4 separate regions of the Homo sapiens genome follow, and all the other regions are reported to be linked to region 1. Evidence: microRNA targets listed by miRTarBase, many of them from high-throughput screens and not tested one by one. Region 1 holds a microRNA gene; each other region holds the end of a gene's coding sequence.
The links. Region 1 holds the annotated microRNA hsa-miR-500b-3p (GCACCCAGGCAAGGAUUCUG, at 1,549-1,568, shown strand). A microRNA usually pairs through its seed, bases 2 to 8, with sites in the 3' UTR of a target mRNA and lowers its output. Matches are read on the target gene's strand: a 7mer-m8 pairs with bases 2 to 8, a 7mer-A1 pairs with bases 2 to 7 and ends in A, and an 8mer does both.

Region 2: the mRNA of AP3B2 is a reported target of hsa-miR-500b-3p. The part of its 3' UTR that is shown has no 7-base or 8-base seed match.
Region 3: miRTarBase lists ZBTB8A as a target of hsa-miR-500b-3p. The part of its 3' UTR that is shown has no 7-base or 8-base seed match.
Region 4: the mRNA of STAR is a reported target of hsa-miR-500b-3p. Seed matches in the 3' UTR shown: 7mer-m8 at 2,567-2,573 and 7mer-m8 at 2,434-2,440.

The regions. Positions count from the first base shown.
Region 1 is chrX:50,009,174-50,013,473 of GRCh38, forward strand. MIR500B (microRNA 500b) reads left to right here and starts at 1,499; the gene lies at 1,499-1,577. The region is part of intron 3 of CLCN5 (chloride voltage-gated channel 5); the gene reads left to right. MIR501 (microRNA 501) reads left to right here and starts at 549; the gene lies at 549-632. It overlaps MIR660 (microRNA 660), which reads left to right and starts at 4,068; the gene lies at 4,068-4,164.
Region 2 is chr15:82,656,286-82,660,285 of GRCh38, forward strand. It overlaps AP3B2 (adaptor related protein complex 3 subunit beta 2), which reads right to left. Exons shown (of 27, transcript NM_001278512.2): 26 at 3,560-3,698; 27 at 2,996-3,425. The coding sequence ends at 3,275. The region is part of intron 3 of CPEB1-AS1 (CPEB1 antisense RNA 1); the gene reads left to right. Among named protein-coding and RNA genes, the nearest start is that of CPEB1-AS1, 11 kb to the left of the region's middle.
Region 3 is chr1:32,599,916-32,603,915 of GRCh38, reverse strand. It overlaps ZBTB8A (zinc finger and BTB domain containing 8A), which reads right to left. Exons shown (of 5, transcript NM_001040441.3): 5 at 1-3,829. The coding sequence ends at 3,497. Among named protein-coding and RNA genes, the nearest start is that of ZBTB8OS, 49 kb to the left of the region's middle.
Region 4 is chr8:38,141,030-38,145,029 of GRCh38, forward strand. It overlaps STAR (steroidogenic acute regulatory protein), which reads right to left. Exons shown (of 7, transcript NM_000349.3): 7 at 1,671-3,357. The coding sequence ends at 3,244. Among named protein-coding and RNA genes, the nearest start is that of STAR, 7.9 kb to the right of the region's middle.

The DNA of each region.
Region 1 (4,300 bases):
GAGGGCACCTGTGGGAGAATGAACTTCATCATTGCCCTGGACAAGCTTACACCTCTTTGAGAGCATGAGCTTTCTGTTTACTCCCAGCTTACTATGTGTCAGATACTGTAATGGGGAAACACACATTGGGTGATGAGACTTGCACAGCCAGTCTTTGCTCTCAGTGAGCTTATAGTTTACCAGAGAAACAGAAGAGAATGAAGTATCCCAATTTTCTGTACCATCTTCCAACATGTGCATGTACATGTGTGCCCACATACAGTTTGTCCCAACCTCCTTGCTAGGCCCCAAATACATCCAGCACCTGCAGACCCTCAAGTGTGATCTGAAAAAGATGCCACTCATATCTTTCATTCTAGTCTGAGGTTTTGTCTGAGAGGGCATGTCCATGTGGCCTTGTGCAGGGGGATGAATACATATGCTATCCCTGAGGAGAGGCATCTGTCTTAGCAAATGCACACAGAGATACTTTGCAGGAATGGGACCATGAAAGTCAAATATATATGGAGATATACATGCAGGGTGCAGGTGCCTGAGTCTTCTGCTCTGCTCTTCCTCTCTAATCCTTTGTCCCTGGGTGAGAGTGCTTTCTGAATGCAATGCACCCGGGCAAGGATTCTGAGAGGGTGAGCCCCCTCTGCGTGGAGAACAGAAGATCTGTATGTCACCTCTCAGCTGCTTGCTGCTTGCCTGCCTGCTCTCTGACCCTCATTCATTCTTTCCTTCCACAAATAATATGTATTGGGCACCATGATGGGCATTGGACACAGAGAAATGAACAAGGCAGACTTCGCCCCTGCCTTCCTGGATATTATAGCCTGAGAGGAGAATGGACTTTGTCACCACTCATTGCCCCTGCATATACTGAGGGTGAGTGGGCCACATAGGAACTTCTTATCTACCCTCTTCCCACCTTAACCCACCCATAAGTGTGAGTCTTCTCATTCCTGCTGTCACATTGATACTTGTTTCTTGTTTTTTCCTTCTTTCCTTCCTTCCTTCTTTTCTTTTTCTTTCTCTTTCTTTTCTTTCTTTCCTTCCTTTCCTTTCCTTTCTTTTCTTCTCTCTTTTCTTTTCTTTCTTTTTTGATGGAGTATTGCTCTGTTGCTCAGGCTGGAGTGCACTGGCACCATCACAGTTCACTGCAGCCTCAACCACCTGGGCTCAAGCGATCCTCCCACCTCAGCCTCTCAAATAGCTGGGACCACAGGCTTGTGCCACCATGCCTGGCTAATTTGTGTTTATTTTTTGTAGAGATGGGGTCTCACTATGTTGCCCAAGCTGGTCTCAAACTCCTAGGCTCAAGCAGTCCACCAGCCTTAGCCTCCCAAAGTGTTGGGATTATAGGTGTGAGCCACTGCACCCAGCCTGATACTTGTCGAAGCAACTTCTCTCTACTTTAGTTCAATGCAAGGTTAATGCACTAGGCAAGAACAGCAAGCCTTCTTGTTAGATGCACATGTGAGGTGTACAGGTACTGGAATCTCCTGTCCTGGTTCCCCCTCTCTAATCCTTGCTACCTGGGTGAGAGTGCTTTCTGAATGCAGTGCACCCAGGCAAGGATTCTGCAAGGGGGAGTGACATCTTCGCATAGGACAGAGCACTTCTACCTCCTCCTTCCATCCTTTCTATGACTATTTGTTGAGTACCTACCTACTCTATTGCAGGTGCTGTCCTGGGCAGTTGGCCCACAAGAGAATGAGCCATATCTGGTTCCCTACCTTCATGGAGTGTACAGTTCAGGGAGGAGAATGGACTCCTTCTCATTCATTATATCTGCATGTCCTGAGGGTGGGTGGGGTACAGGGTGGGTGGGGTACAGATACATGTTGGAGAATCTACTAAACCTCAGTACAATCACACATAAATACGCTGTGTGCAAGAGAAAGGGCCTGACTTGGTTACATCCACAGAGACATGTCCTCACAGAGTGGTCCCTCTGACCTGGTGCATCACTCACATTCTTTCAGCCTGTGTGCCAGTACTGCCTTGACTCACTGTCCCTTTTCAAGAATTCCAAGGGAAGAAGCCTTGTCTACACTTAAAAGGACAGAGCTTTTGCACATCAACTCTCCCTCCTCTTCCTTCCACAGATACTCAAGTGTCTATTAGACAGCAGGTATTATGTTCATCACCAAGGATATAGCAGGGATCAAAATGGACAGGTTGCTACCCTACATTCTGGTAGGGACTCATAAACACACTATACATAAATGTTGTGGATGAATAGGCCACTGTTCAAAAGAATGAAGTAGATCTATATGTTCCTTGTTACCCAGTCTGCATGCACAAGCATGTGCAGGTTCTGCTCAAGTGAAATTCTCAAATGTCCCCAATCCTTGTACACCAGACACACTCAGAGACATGGCCCTGCATGCAGAGAACCCCACCTACTGAAAGGGTAGGAGATGGAGCCTGTTGTGCTCTCCTCTCTCCCATTCTCAGCGTGCAAGCCAGTGAGCTTCCTTAACTCCCTTATAGATGGGGATTAAATGAGGGAAGTCTTCTTACTGCTACTTTCCTTCTTGCTGCTCTGTATAGGAGAGATCCTTTCATTACTTTTCTGTACAGTCACAGATGAACACACTATATGCGGTGAGCCTTCCCTGTAAACCCATGTGAGCACATGTGCACACACGCACACGTGCACACACACATACTCTGTATGGCTGCTTGGGCCTTCAGTCCTGTTCCCCCTCTTGAATCCTGGTACCTGGATGCAAGTGCTGTGTCAATGCGGTGCACCCAGGCAAGCATTCCACGGCTGAGCCTTTTCTGCATAGAGCGAAGAACACCTGTTTATAATCCCCATCCTTCATTCATTCCCACCTTTAACAAGCAGGGGTGGCGCTCCTGTCATGCACCAGACATGGAGAGACAGGGTGGTCAAGAAAGACACAGAACTCATACTCACATGCCTAGTGAGCATGTTTAAGAGAAGGAACTTCCGTTGCCCACATTGTTCATGCATACGTATGTAGCAGAGAGTGAGTCTTCCCATCATCCCCTCTCCAACCCCCCAACAGTGCTCAGCTAGAGAACTACAAAAGGTGTGTCTCCCCTTACACAGAGCTGCAGCCACAGTGTGCATAGGATAATGAGTGTCATTAGCAGCATCTTCTCACTCATGTCTGGTGTGCAAGGCAATAGGCTTTCTACTTGCTGCTTATGCCACCAGAGCTTGAAGGAAAGTGGCCCTACTTGTCAGTCATCTCACACATGCATATGAAGAAAAGACACTTCACCTTTGTATGGTCATAGGAAAATCACCTGTGAGCCAGAGAGTGCTGTTTCTTTTGTACATACACACAAACACAATGGATTTGAAGATGCTCGAGCCTTCTATTCAGGTTGTCCCTCTCTTTCATTCTTCGTAGTTGGGTACAAATGCTATTCCAGTCCATTGCCTTGTACAAAAATTCAGAGAGGGAATCTCATCCATGTTTAAAAGTGTAGAGTCTTTGCATCACCCCTCTATGTCCCATTATTTCATTTCTTTAAGTTATGTATAGAGCAGTGGTTCTCAGTGTGGTCCCTGGGCCAGCAGCATCTGTATCACCTAGGAGCTTGTTCAAAATGCCAATTCTTGGGCTCATCCCTGACCTACTACACCATAAACCATGGAAATCTGTACTTTACCAAGGCTCTCAACTGATTCTGATGCTCACTTAAGTTTGAGAATCACTGATTTAGTATAAGTGCTAGCTAGGGGCAGTGATAAGCTAGTCAGGTGAAGGGTGGAAGAGAATGAGCTCCTGCATTGCTCATGTACGTTCCCAATGCCGAGTCCATGCAGACTGTGGCAGGGAAGCCATCATTTCATTACTGTCTCCACCTCCTCCATAACCACACATTCAGTGAGCACATGAGGCTAAGTGAACACACAACAAGTACTTTATTAGGGAATAGACTTGGCACTGCTTCTCCAGGCGTGCACCTGACACTTTAATCTCAATCTGTCTCTCTCTCAATCAATCAATCAATCTCTCTCCTCTCTCTCTCTTTCTCTCTTTCTGTCTTTCTTTCTCTCTCCTCCCCCACCCCCCTCCCATGTGCAGAAGAATGAACTGCTCCTTCTCCCATACCCATTGCATATCGGAGTTGTGAATTCTCAAAACACCTCCTGTGTGCATGGATTACAGGAGGGTGAGCCTTGTCATCGTGAATCTTCTGCTGAACAATCCAAGTAGCCCGTGTTTATTGCGCACTTTTGATGTGCCATGAGCTGTGCTGGGAGTACCCTGCTAAATAATGGACAGTGTCTCTCTCCGGGACTTCCTATCTAGTGGAGGTATTAGGT
Region 2 (4,000 bases), not on the chromosome of region 1:
ATCTCTACTAAAAATACAAAAAATTAGGCTGAGTGCAGTGTCTCACGCCTATAATCCCAGCACTTTGGGAGGCCAAGGCAGGCAGATCACGAGTCAGGAGTTCGAGACCAGCCTGACCAACATGGCGAAACCCCGTCTCTACTAAAAATATAAAAATTAGCCAAACGTGGTGGCACACGCCTGTAATCCCTAATCCCAGCTACTCAGGAGGCTGAGGCACGAGAATTGCTTGAACCCAGGAGGCGGAGGTTGCAGTGAGCGGAGATTGTGCCACCGCACTCCAACCTGGGCAACAGAGCAAGACTCTGTCTCCCAAAAAAAAAGAAAAAAAAAAAAAGGCTGTTCATGGGAAGCATTTTCCCTGCCAACTGAGATCCAGACACTCTGTGACCAGGCCCCTAATAACCTGGGGACAAAGTGTCACCACAGTGGCAAAGACTTGGGCCAGTGATAAAATACAGAATACGATATGGGTTGGGGAAAATGCCCCCGGGGGATGTGGGGGCCCCCAGCCCCTGCAGGTCTGACCTGCTTCCACCTGTGTGTGCTGGGCAGGCCCCCATCTTATCCCTGCACACTCGCTCAGGTATGCTCATGTGGTAGGGTTGTGGGAGGTATGGCCTTGGAAGAGATGGGCTGGGCTGGAACGAGAGCTGGGGCAACCACTCCCCCTTCCTCTGTGACTGAGATTCTCTCACTCCAGACCGTTCACTCAGCACAGAACAGGCCCCATGCTCCTCCTGGGTGGGAAATTGCTGCCCCACCAATCTCCCAGCCCAGCCTTCACCAGCAGCACACCACTCCCCGCTGGGCTCCTTCTGCAGTCATACTCTCCCCTGCCCACACCTTGCTCTCCTGCTTCCTGCCTCTCTCTTTGGTCAAACACCAGAACCATTTCCTTATGAAGAGTTGCTACTGCTAATGCCAAAGCCTGGGACACATTCCAGAGACACCAACACAGAGCCGTGAAGGTTCCAACTCTCTGGACTCTCAGGGTTGGAAATCCCAGTGCCCTTTCCAAGAGGTTCTGGGAACCTGGACTGTACTTGAGGAATGTTGTGGGACTTGCCTTTTGCACTTCTGGTTCCTACAGAATCCCATTTTTTTAAAAGGGGATTTTTTTTTAGAGGTAGGGTCTTGCTAGGTTGTCCAGGATAGAGTGCTATTCACAGGTGTAATAATAGTGCAATACAGCCCTGAACTCCTGGCCTCAAGCAGTTCTCCAGTCTCAGCCTTCTGAGTAGCTGGGACTACAGACACATGCCCAGCTCTACTCTGGGGCTTTTGATATAGAATAAAGGTGGGTAAGGGATTCTCTGATGGTCCTTGTTCAAATTTCTTAGAAAATCACCCTCACCCTCTCTCAGTGCTGTGGGTAGTGCTGATTCAGAGGCAAAAGTAAGACTGAATCTTACTTTTGACTGGAGGACCATCTCAGAATCTGCAGTGACAAAAACAGTGATCCCAGGGAGACTTTGGGGCCCCAGGCTCTCAGGGAAGCAGCAGCTCCAGCAGCTCTCTGGTGTCACAGTGCCCAGCAAGTCCCTGGAGCCAGAGGCAGGGCTGTCCCCTGGCACTGCCTTTGTTCTCCTTCTGTGAGAGGACAGCCACACCTGCTTCACCCCATCTTACCCATGAACAGACATGCTCAGGGATGCCTAAGTGGCAGGGCTGAGGGACAGTATGGCCAAGGGCCTAAAGTCTTGGTCACAGAGGATCAGAGGCTGAGGTTCAACATCTCAAACTAACTGGAGTGTGTTCCTTGTAACCCAGTCAATCAAGATGTTGTGAGGAAAGTGTTCCAAAATCAAAACCAAGTTTGAGTAACACTGCAGGCTGAGAGGTGGTCACAGTGTACATTAGCATAGTAAAAGTTCTGAGAAGACCTGTAGGAAATGAACTTATTTCACTTAAATCCAAGATTCCTAAACTTATTTGATCATAGACTTTGCAGGGGGCGGGAGGGTACAGAACACATCCTAATGGAACACCTTTTATACGTTTTAGAACCACTGCTCACTCAGCCTCTTTCTTCACCAGAAAAGGTGTCAGGGAGAGCCCTGACCCCCACTGCACCCACCAGGTTTGTTCCAGGTGTGAGCAGATGCTGGTGTCTTGTTACAAATACAGAATCTGCTGCTCTGCCTATGGAGTCGCCATTCTGTTGTTTCTTAATAAATTTGCTTTCACATTATTATTATTATTGTTATTATTATCTTGAGACAGAGTCTCACCCTGTCGTCCAGGCTAGAGTGTAATGGCACGATCTCAGCTCACTGCAACCTCTGCCTCCTGGGTTCAAGCGATTCTCCTGCCTCAGCCTCCCAAGTAGCTGGGATTACAGGTGCGCACCACCATGCCCAGCTAATTTTTTGTATCTTTAGTACAGATGGGATTTCGCCATGTTGGCCATGTTGGTCTTGACCTCGTGATTGGCCCACCTCAGCCTCCCAAAGTGCTGGGATTACAGGTGTGAGCCACCACGCCCGGCTGCTTTCACTTAAAAAAAAAATGCAGAATTTCAGACCCCACCCTAGACCTACTAATAGAATCTGCATGTGATGGGATCCCCAGGTGACTTGCCACAAAGTGGTTTGAGAAGTACAGTTATGCATCTTCTATTCTTCCACTAAGATGACCAGTGGGTCAGTACCCCAGCCAGGTGGGGCCTCCAGGCCCCCTAACTGGAGTAGTTGACATATGTTGAACTGAGCACCTGTGTTTGGGGAAGTCCCCATGTTATGAGTCCTTCCTTCCCAAGGGACCGTAAGAAGAACTAAGGGGGTCTGCCAGCCATTGAAGAGGACTTGTTTTTGCAGAGGCTATAAAAAGGACCAAGGTGCTCTTCCAGCTCTGCCTTGCCACCCCAGCCCAGATGTCTCTTCCACAGAGATGCCTGCAGACTCCTAGGCATCCTGACCCAGAGATGGTTACCTTGGGGATTCAACAAGAGTTGTTCCTGACAAACCCCTAGAAGGAAAGGTGAGCCAGCAGCTAGAGAGAAGACATTTTATTGAGCCTGCTACATAAATAGCTACAGAAATCTGGGAGGACTGAAGGGAGTGGCTGCCATCTCTCTCTGCACAGATCACTAAGGAATCCATGGGGAGGGCATTAGGGGAGGGCTTGGTCCTCCAGAGGGAGAGAGGACACCCTGAATGCTATCTGGCATGAGGAGGATGATGAGAGAGAGAGAGAAAGATGAGAGAGACTGACAGCCTAGGTGTCATGGGGAGGTATAGATGGGAGCCAAACAGGTCACAGCATTTGGAAGTCACTGGGTCAGAGCCTGTATCACATCCTTTACCAGCATGGTGCCAATCACCATTTTCTCGCTGTTGACAGTCAGCTGGGCAGCTCCAGCTGGCCGGGCATCCAGGGTCAGCAGAACGAGGCTTCCACCAGTCAGTGTCCTCCCTGCAAACCTGAGGTGGGAATAGAAGGGGTGAGGAAGAGCTGCTAAGGGTGACTGTGTTTGGAAGGGGATCAGCAGCTGGGGCTCCTCCTTCAAACCAGGGCCCCCATGCTCATCATTTCCCCTCTACTGGTGGCCTAGTACCTGTACTCATCAGATGTCCCACAAGGAACACGACCCAGGTTGGCAGTGGCAGTCACTTTCTGCACCACAATGTGGTCACTCCGACAGGTGTCTGGCAGCATGAGTTTCTCTGTGATCTCATTCATGCCCATCAGCTTTCCTGGGGGTAGAGGTCGTGATGAGGGCAGAGGCCATGGTGGGTACAGAGGCCAGCACCTGGGTCTGCTTACTGAGCAACAAGTTCTCCCAGGCTGGGAAGGTATCATGCAAAGGGCAGGTCAGAATTTAAATCATCAGTCTTGGGGAGAAGGTACTTCCCTCTCAGACTGGGCCCTCCCTCAGGAAGCCTTTGTCAGCCTCTCTACCCCTCCCACCCAGGCCTTTATCCATGTTGTTACCAAAGACTGATTTGGCGCTTCCTCCATCAGACATCTGGGCTACCAGCCCCTTGAGAGTGGCCAG
Region 3 (4,000 bases), not on the chromosome of region 1:
TGCTATAACTGGAGTCATTATTTACAACTTACAAACATGTCTTAAATGTTCTTCTATGATGTTAAAATGATACAACAGATTCTTTGTCTAGTTTGGTGAACTTGATCATTTTGTGGGGATAGTTTGATGCTCGTTATAAACAATTATGAGAAAGCATTATTTCTGAAAAGGCAATTACAAGTGCTGGTGGCACTGTGTTCAGTGAATGTTGGATATTCATGCTGATGTATGTAAAGTTTGCATGCAGAAGATAATAGCATAAAAGGACATTTAGATCATAGACTAAAGTGCATTAGAGTACACACATGCAAGCACTACTTCATTTATAGGAAAAAAGTTCAAATCAGCCATTTTTCCTACTGGCTCCAACAACTAAAAAATCAGGTTTTAATTTCAAAAGGTGTCAGTATTAATTGGGTAAGACTAGAGAATGACAAGCGTTTCCTTCCTCATTCAGATACACTTTAATTGTTAAGAATCCTGATTTAGGCCGGGCGTGCTGGCTCACGCCTGTAATCCCAGCACTTTGGGAGGCTGAGGCGGGCAGATCACGAGGTCAGGAGTTCGAGACCAGCCTGGCCAACATAGCGAAACCCTGTCTCTACTAAAAATACAAAAATTAGCCAGGCATGGTGGCACATGCCTGTAGTCCCGGCTACTCAGGAGGCTGAGGCAGGAGAATCGCTTGAACCCGGGAGGCAGAGGTTGTGGTGAGCGAGATCACGCCACTGCACTCCAGCTTGGACAACAGAGCGAGAGTCCATCTCAAAAAAACCAGAATCCTGATTTAGGAACAGCCATGTTGGGAGAACAGAGAACTCAATGCACATCATCCAGTCTTGAAGCAACTGCAAATGTGCCATCAGGGGAATCTTGAAAAAGTCTCAATTAAGTACCATGAAACAAGTGGTTATTCATCTATTTTTAAATTTTTTAAAAGAAAGTAACCAATTTAGCCTAGAAATTGGTATCAAGGACAATAATTAATGAAAGAACAAGAGAAAATAGTAACATAAAAAGGATAATTTTGAGGTATGTCATGGCATTTAAAAATACAGTAAAATTGGCTGGGCGCAGTGGCTCACGCCTGTAATCCCAGCACTTTGGGAGGCCGAGGGGGGCGGATCACGAGATCAGGAGATTGAGACCATCCTGGCTAACACGGTGAAACCCCATCTCTATTAAAAATACAAAAAATTAGCTGGGAGTGGTGGTGGGCGCCTGTAAGTCCCAGCTACTCGGGAGGCTGAGGCAGGAGAATGGCGAGAACCCGGGAGGTGGAGCTTGCAGTGAGCTGAGATTGCACCACTGCACTCCAGCCTGGGCGACAGAGCGAGACTCCGTCTCGAAAAAAAAACAAAAACAAAAAAGAAAACAGTAAAATAGATGGAGCCTCTCCATATACAGTGAAATTCTATCAAGCTTCACTGTGATAACTTGCAGAAGAGACCTTTATGAAGCTCAGTTCTTTACTTCGGATATTTAGATTTTACCTTTAGAACTGAAACAATGCTTCTCTAATTTAGCTGTAATTTTGGAATGTTTCATAATTTATGCAGGGGAGAAGTTTTTTTTTTTTTTTTTTTTGAGACGGAGTTTCGCTCTTGTTGCCCAGGCTGGAGTGCAATGGCGCAACCTCAGCCCACCGCAGCCTCTGCCTCCTGGGTTCAAGCTATCCTCCTGCCTCAGCCTTCTGAGTAGCTGGGATTACAGGCATGCACCACCACGCCCGGCTAATTTTGTATTTTTAGTAGAGACGGGGTTTCTCCATGTTGGTCAGGCTGGTCTCAAACTCCCGACCTCGGTGATCCACCTGCCTCAGCCTCCCAAAGTGCTGGGATTACAGGCGTGAGCCACTGGGCCCAGCCCAAAGGGGAGAAGTTTAAACTTTGTATACTAGGAGAAAAGTTTGTTTTGAAAATATTATATAAACAAGAGAAGCAAAAATGTTCAACATATTTAAGTGAATAATTTGTTCAAATAGTTTTATACTTTAAATTTACATATAAATAACGTGACATAAAAACATACCAATAGGTACTGTAGGGACATTACTTAGCATTATTTGAAAATCTCTAGATCAAGATATTGTATGTTGTTGAAAATGATTCAATTCCTCCTTTCATACTTTCTAATTCTGATTGGCTTATTTTTATAATGACTGCCAACTGGTGAGGTTTGACTTCTATTCTTTGCCATTTCAGGAGACATACAGGGAGAGAAGGCTGAAAGAGGATTGTTTAAAATCAGATCCTGTCCAATCATCAGTTTTCTCTCTCAGACTTTCTGACCTTAATTTCCTCATTTGTAAATCGGAGATAGTATCCACCTCACTGAGAAAATACATGAGAGAGTACTTTATAAATAATATAGCACTACATAAACGTTAGAAATCACTCACATATGGTAAGAACCTCCTAGTTTGTTTTCCTTTTTTTTTTGAGACGGAGTTTCGCTCTTGTTGCCCAGGCTGGAGTGCAATGGTGTGATCTCGGCTCACTGCAACTTCTGCCTTCCAGGTTCAATCGATTCTCCTGCCTCAGCCTCCCGAGTAGCTGGGATTATAGGCACCCGCCACCATGCCCGGCTAATTTTGTATTTTTTAGTAGAGACGAGGTTTCACCATGTTGGCCAGGCTGGTTTCAAACTCCTGACCTTGTGATCCGCCTGCCTCGGCCTCCCAAAGTATTGGGATTATAGGCATGAGCCACAGCGCCCAGCCTGCTTTTCTTTAGAGAGATGGACAACCATATTGACAGATTGTCTTCACAAACTACCTTGACTTTTAGGCAACATTAGTTTCCTGCTTTAAGAAAATATCTGTATATAATCTTTGGCCAGCCTCTACTTTTTTTTTTTTTTAACAATACTGAGAGTAATTTTTAAGCTAATGATAAAAATTTCAAATATGAATGATTTCAAACACTTTAGTCTTCTTCCATAATCCTTAAACGTTCAGGATATCAGAGTAATGACAGGTTGTTTCAGATCTCAAATTAATAGAAAGACTAATTTGTTTAGTAAGGTGGGTTGCCAGATCCTTAAATGTGCTCTTAACTGGTTCCCTGTGAAATTAAACATTGGTAGTTATGTGTTTTTGAAACACCTTGAAATTGTCTTACATAAAGTTTGGTTGTGGTGAATTTATTTAAAGTATTTTCTTTGAAAAAAGTTTGCTAAGTAGATCCTCCAATATTAAAAGAAAAAGGTATCTCTGGAATAAAGTAAGAGGATTGTAATGAAAGTAAGAGGATAATTGTTCATCCATCAAGCCAACTCAAGCTAGTTCTTTCTTTCCAGTGCAGCAACACATTTTAGGGCAACAAAGTTCAGAATGGATACAATGGCCTGTTCAGAAAGCATGCAAGTTATATCAGATCATTTCTTTAAAGTCAGTGTGATAAATTTGTTAACTAGACTCCGACCATAGAAAGAGAGAGATACAGGAAGTCAATGTAAATTGCAGACATGCCAGCTCTGTTGGTTCACATTACAGCTACCTAATGTTGGGCTTAATTTCTTTTTCTTCTTCTTCTTCACTATCATCAACCTGTTGGATGACCAGATCAGCAGACCCATCTTCTACAATCTCCACATAGGATCTATTCTCATCTTCACTCAAGTGCCATCTGGAATCCTTATCTCCATCTGATGGGGACATAAGATGTTGTTCAGCTTCCAAGTCAATGGGGAGGCTGTCTATGCCAAATTCTGCAAGACACTCATTACACAGTCTGTAGCGCCTGGTTCCCTCCTGTACCACTTGCCCTGTTAGATCTGTCACATGACGTTTACATTTTCTGCAGATGAGTTTACATGCCTGGTGAATCTGTGTAGAGATTTAAATAGTGATAAAAGTGATTTTTCAAAAGCAGGACAGTTTGATATTTTAGGTACCAGTTCATAAACTTAAGATGTTCAAAGCCATGCATTAAACTCAAATTAACATCTATTATTTAGAGAAAGATCAAGGGTTTTAGTGGTGAATTGATGTCACAGA
Region 4 (4,000 bases), not on the chromosome of region 1:
CACCCGGCCTGTCTTCCTTTTTTCAATACATCAGTCTTACGGCAAAGACAGCCCTCCCAGGATTGCCCAAAGTCCCTCCTGCATTTACCTCTCTACCTCGGTTAATAAGTAGAGTGGCTCACCACTGGAGGGTGACATGCTGCTGCAGAATCACCATGTTATGCCTGTGGCTCTTCTGAATATCTTATCATTTTCCTGTTTAAGAGAGTTCCCACACTTCAAGACAATATTGGTATTTTAACATAGTAGCATTGATTAATATATTTGTCTCCCGATGAATCACCCAGACACTTTGATTTGGCCACTGCATATCTCTGAACAGGAAAGCCTATACAGGTCGAGTGTGATTGGAGGCTGAGGCTCAGCCCTAGACACCTATTAATGCGTGAACTAGTCTTCAAGGGCAGACCTGGTTATAAAGCTTCTAGATCATCGGAGTTTGAGGTACTCCAAGAAAATGAGGGTGGTGTTATTTAGAGGAAGCTGAATGTTAACTCTTTGTAATATAAATTACCACATATAAGTTGTATACACACTCTCCATCTAAATTATAAAATTAGCTTTTTGTATATATTTTCACAAATCAAAGGTTACAGGTAATGATGTTCTTCTCAAACTTCAAAAGTGTGTGTGTGTTTTAATACAGTTCATTTGAAGGGCTCAGAGAATATCTACTCTTCACAGCGTCCTATATAAAATAGTTTCTGTAATCAGATCAACAGTGATAACTTGTTTTATTCCAGTGTAAAATTAAACAAGTGGGAAAATATCTCCACAGAAACCAGAAAGACACAATTACATAGTTTGAAGGAGGCAATTAGAATCCAGCAAACCAGTGGGTTTGTTAAAAGCCTATTTCTTGACTGTCAGCCTGTTCTCTTGAAACTACAATATATGTTGCTTTAAGGTATCTTTAAACAAGTAACTATTTTCTCTTAGCTGGTAGTGGATGATAATTCCATTTTAGAAATACTTCTCTACAACTATCCTCTCTCAACTCTGAGGCTCCTAGATAAACAATAATTTTATCCATGTCAAAAATAAACTAAGAAACAATCCGAATAAATTATAATAAATACCTTTACTAGTTGTAAAATTTTAATACCTCAGGAAATACCACAGTGTTCCCACTAATGCTATTTTTTAATTTTTTAATTTAGTTTGTCATAATTTGGTTTCATCAACTCCTTTGTTTTTTCCTTCTTTTTTTTTTTTTGAGATGAGGTCTCACTATCTTGCCCAGACTGGTTTCGAATTGCCCTCCAGCAATTCTCCCACCTCAGCCTTCAGAGTAGCTGGCATTGTGGGTAGGCACCACTGTGCCCAGCTCCTGTTTTATAATAAATAAGCCAGAGCTCTATCTCCAAATGGTGCAAATCATCAATGCTATTAAAACAAGAATGGAAAAGCTTCAGGTGGTAATGGTGATTTTTTCATCCTCCCTACCCCCCTCCCATCCCAATGTGTGTGTGTGTGTGTGTGTGTGTGTGTGTGTGTGTATAATTTTTTTTTTTTTTTTAAGACAGCCTCGCTCTGTCGCCCAGGCTGGAGTACAGTGGCTCGATCTTGGCTCACTTCAACCTCCGCCTCCCGGGTTCAGGCGATTCTCCTGCCTCAGCCTCCCAAGTAGCTGGGATTACAGGCATGCACCACCACGCCCAGCTCATTTTGTATTTTTAGTAGAGATGGGGTTTCTCCATGTTAGTCAGGCTGGTCTCCTGCCCTCAGGTGATTGCCTGCCTTGGCCTCCCAAAGTGCTGAGATTACAGGCGGGAGCCACCTCACATAAATTCTCTTGACTCCTGGGAAAGGGAATTTGCTTTCACCATATTACCCCTTCTTCCAGCCACTTCTCCCAGAATACTAAACTTTTAGCCTGTTTAAGCAGAGAAGTTGCCAGCCCCAAACAAAGTTGACAGCTGTGGAATTATCTTACTACTAATTGGCATCATAAATAACAGAAATGTTAACTAATATTGTTTATCCTCTCATATTTGGCACTGCCTTTCCTTTTAATTAGGTAAATAAACAGTTATAATCTTCATCTTCCAGGGCCCATTAATCAGCTATTGCTTATAGAATTCTTTAAGAACTCATTTAGGTTATGATTATGGAAATTAAATTTTTATGAAAGATCCTGGTAACAGAGTCTAAATTATTGAATTGCATAATTTCCCAGTAGTTCCTTTCCTTTTAATGAGCCTTAATTTAGTTTGACTAATTAAAAGCTTTGTCCAGAACTCCTCTAGTGTGAAGTTGTAATCTACTAGCATAGATTTTTTTTTTTTTTTTTTTGAGATGGAGTCTCACTCTGTCGCCCACGCTGGAGCGCAGTGGCACAATCTCGGCCCACTACAACCTCCGCCTCCGGGGTTCAAGTGATTCCCCTGCCTCAGCCTCCCAAGTAGCTACGACTACAGGTTTGCGCCACCACACCCAGCTAATTTTTTGTATTTTAGTAGAGACGGGGTTTCACCATGTTGGCCAGGATGGTCTCGATCTCCTGACCTTGTGATCCGCCTACCTCAGCCTCCCAAAATGCTGGGATTACAGGCGTGAGCCACTGCACCCAGCTGCATAGATTTTTTTAACAGTACAATATTAAAACAAAGACTGATGTTTGTGTGAATTATGATTCTTTATTCTGACTGGTGCCTATGAAAGCAATAGGGAAACATGTCTACTAATGAGTTTTGTCTTTTTCCACAGAGAAAGCTTGGACTATATTTCTGGAAGGCACCCACTGTGGGGTGCTGCTTGTTCTGTGGTGTTGCTGTGCAGCGGCCGGGAGGAGCAGAGGGCTGCAGGAGACCCTCTGAGATTCTGCTTTGTGCACATGTACTGCCAGCGCATGGCATTCTTGAGCCCATAAAGCAAGACTTCTCAGGCCCTGTGGTTAGCATCCCCCACACCCATATCAGCCACTAGCATTTTAAAGATGGTTTTAGGTGGGTACATAAGGGCCCAGAAAAAAAGTTTTACAATTATTTTAGGGGCCTGAACCCTCATGTCATAGCTAATCAGTGAATGAAGTTACCTTTTAATCCAAGAGCCTCATCCCTGTTTTCTTGGTACTAAAAACTTTCACCAATCTGAATCCTAGTGTCATACTCTAAACACGAACCCCACCCATCCCACTGTCACCAGATGGAGATCTTAGACTTGCAGGCTTCCAGTAGGGATTCTCCTGATGAGCGTGTGTACCAGTGCAGCTGGGCACAGTTGGGAACAGCAGGCTGGTCTTCAACACCTGGCTTCAGAGGCAGGGTGGGACTCCAGGCGCTTGCGCAGGTGGTTGGCAAAATCCACCTGGGTCTGGGACAGGACCTGGTTGATGATGCTCTTGGGCAGCCACCCCTGCAGTAGGAGGTAGGAGAATTTGGCCATCTTGTGGGTTTTGGCCCACTCTTGACACTGCACCCTATCACAAACAGGCTGCCAGGGGCTTGGTCTTCGAGCTCTGTTAATAGGTGCAGCCTTGGAGTTGCCCAGTCAAGGGCGGGAGGACTGCATTGCTCCTCTGCTGTCATGACTTTCAGAAGCACAAGACTGGCCAACAAGATGTTTCAGCCTGGTGTTCCCAGCTGTGTGACCCTGAACCAGTTATGTTGCCTTTTTCACCCTTCAGATCTCTGGACCTAAGTTTCCTTCTTTCTAAAATGATAACTACATATAAGAGTTGAACTTTGCTGTGAGACAGAAGAGGGCCAGGCGCAGTGGCTCACGCCTGTAATCCCAGCACTTTTGGAGGCAGGCAGATCACGAGGTCAGGAGTTTGAGACCAGCCTGGCCACCATAGTGAAACCCCGTCTCTACTAAAAATACAAAAATTAGCCATGTGTGGTGGCACACGCCTGTAGTTCCAGCTACTCAGGAGGCTGAGGCGGAAGAATCACTTGAATCCGGGAGGCGGAGGTTACGGTGAGCTGAGACCATGTCATTGTACTCCAGCCTGAGTGACAGAATGAAACTGAGTCTCGAAAAAAAAAAAAAAAAAAAA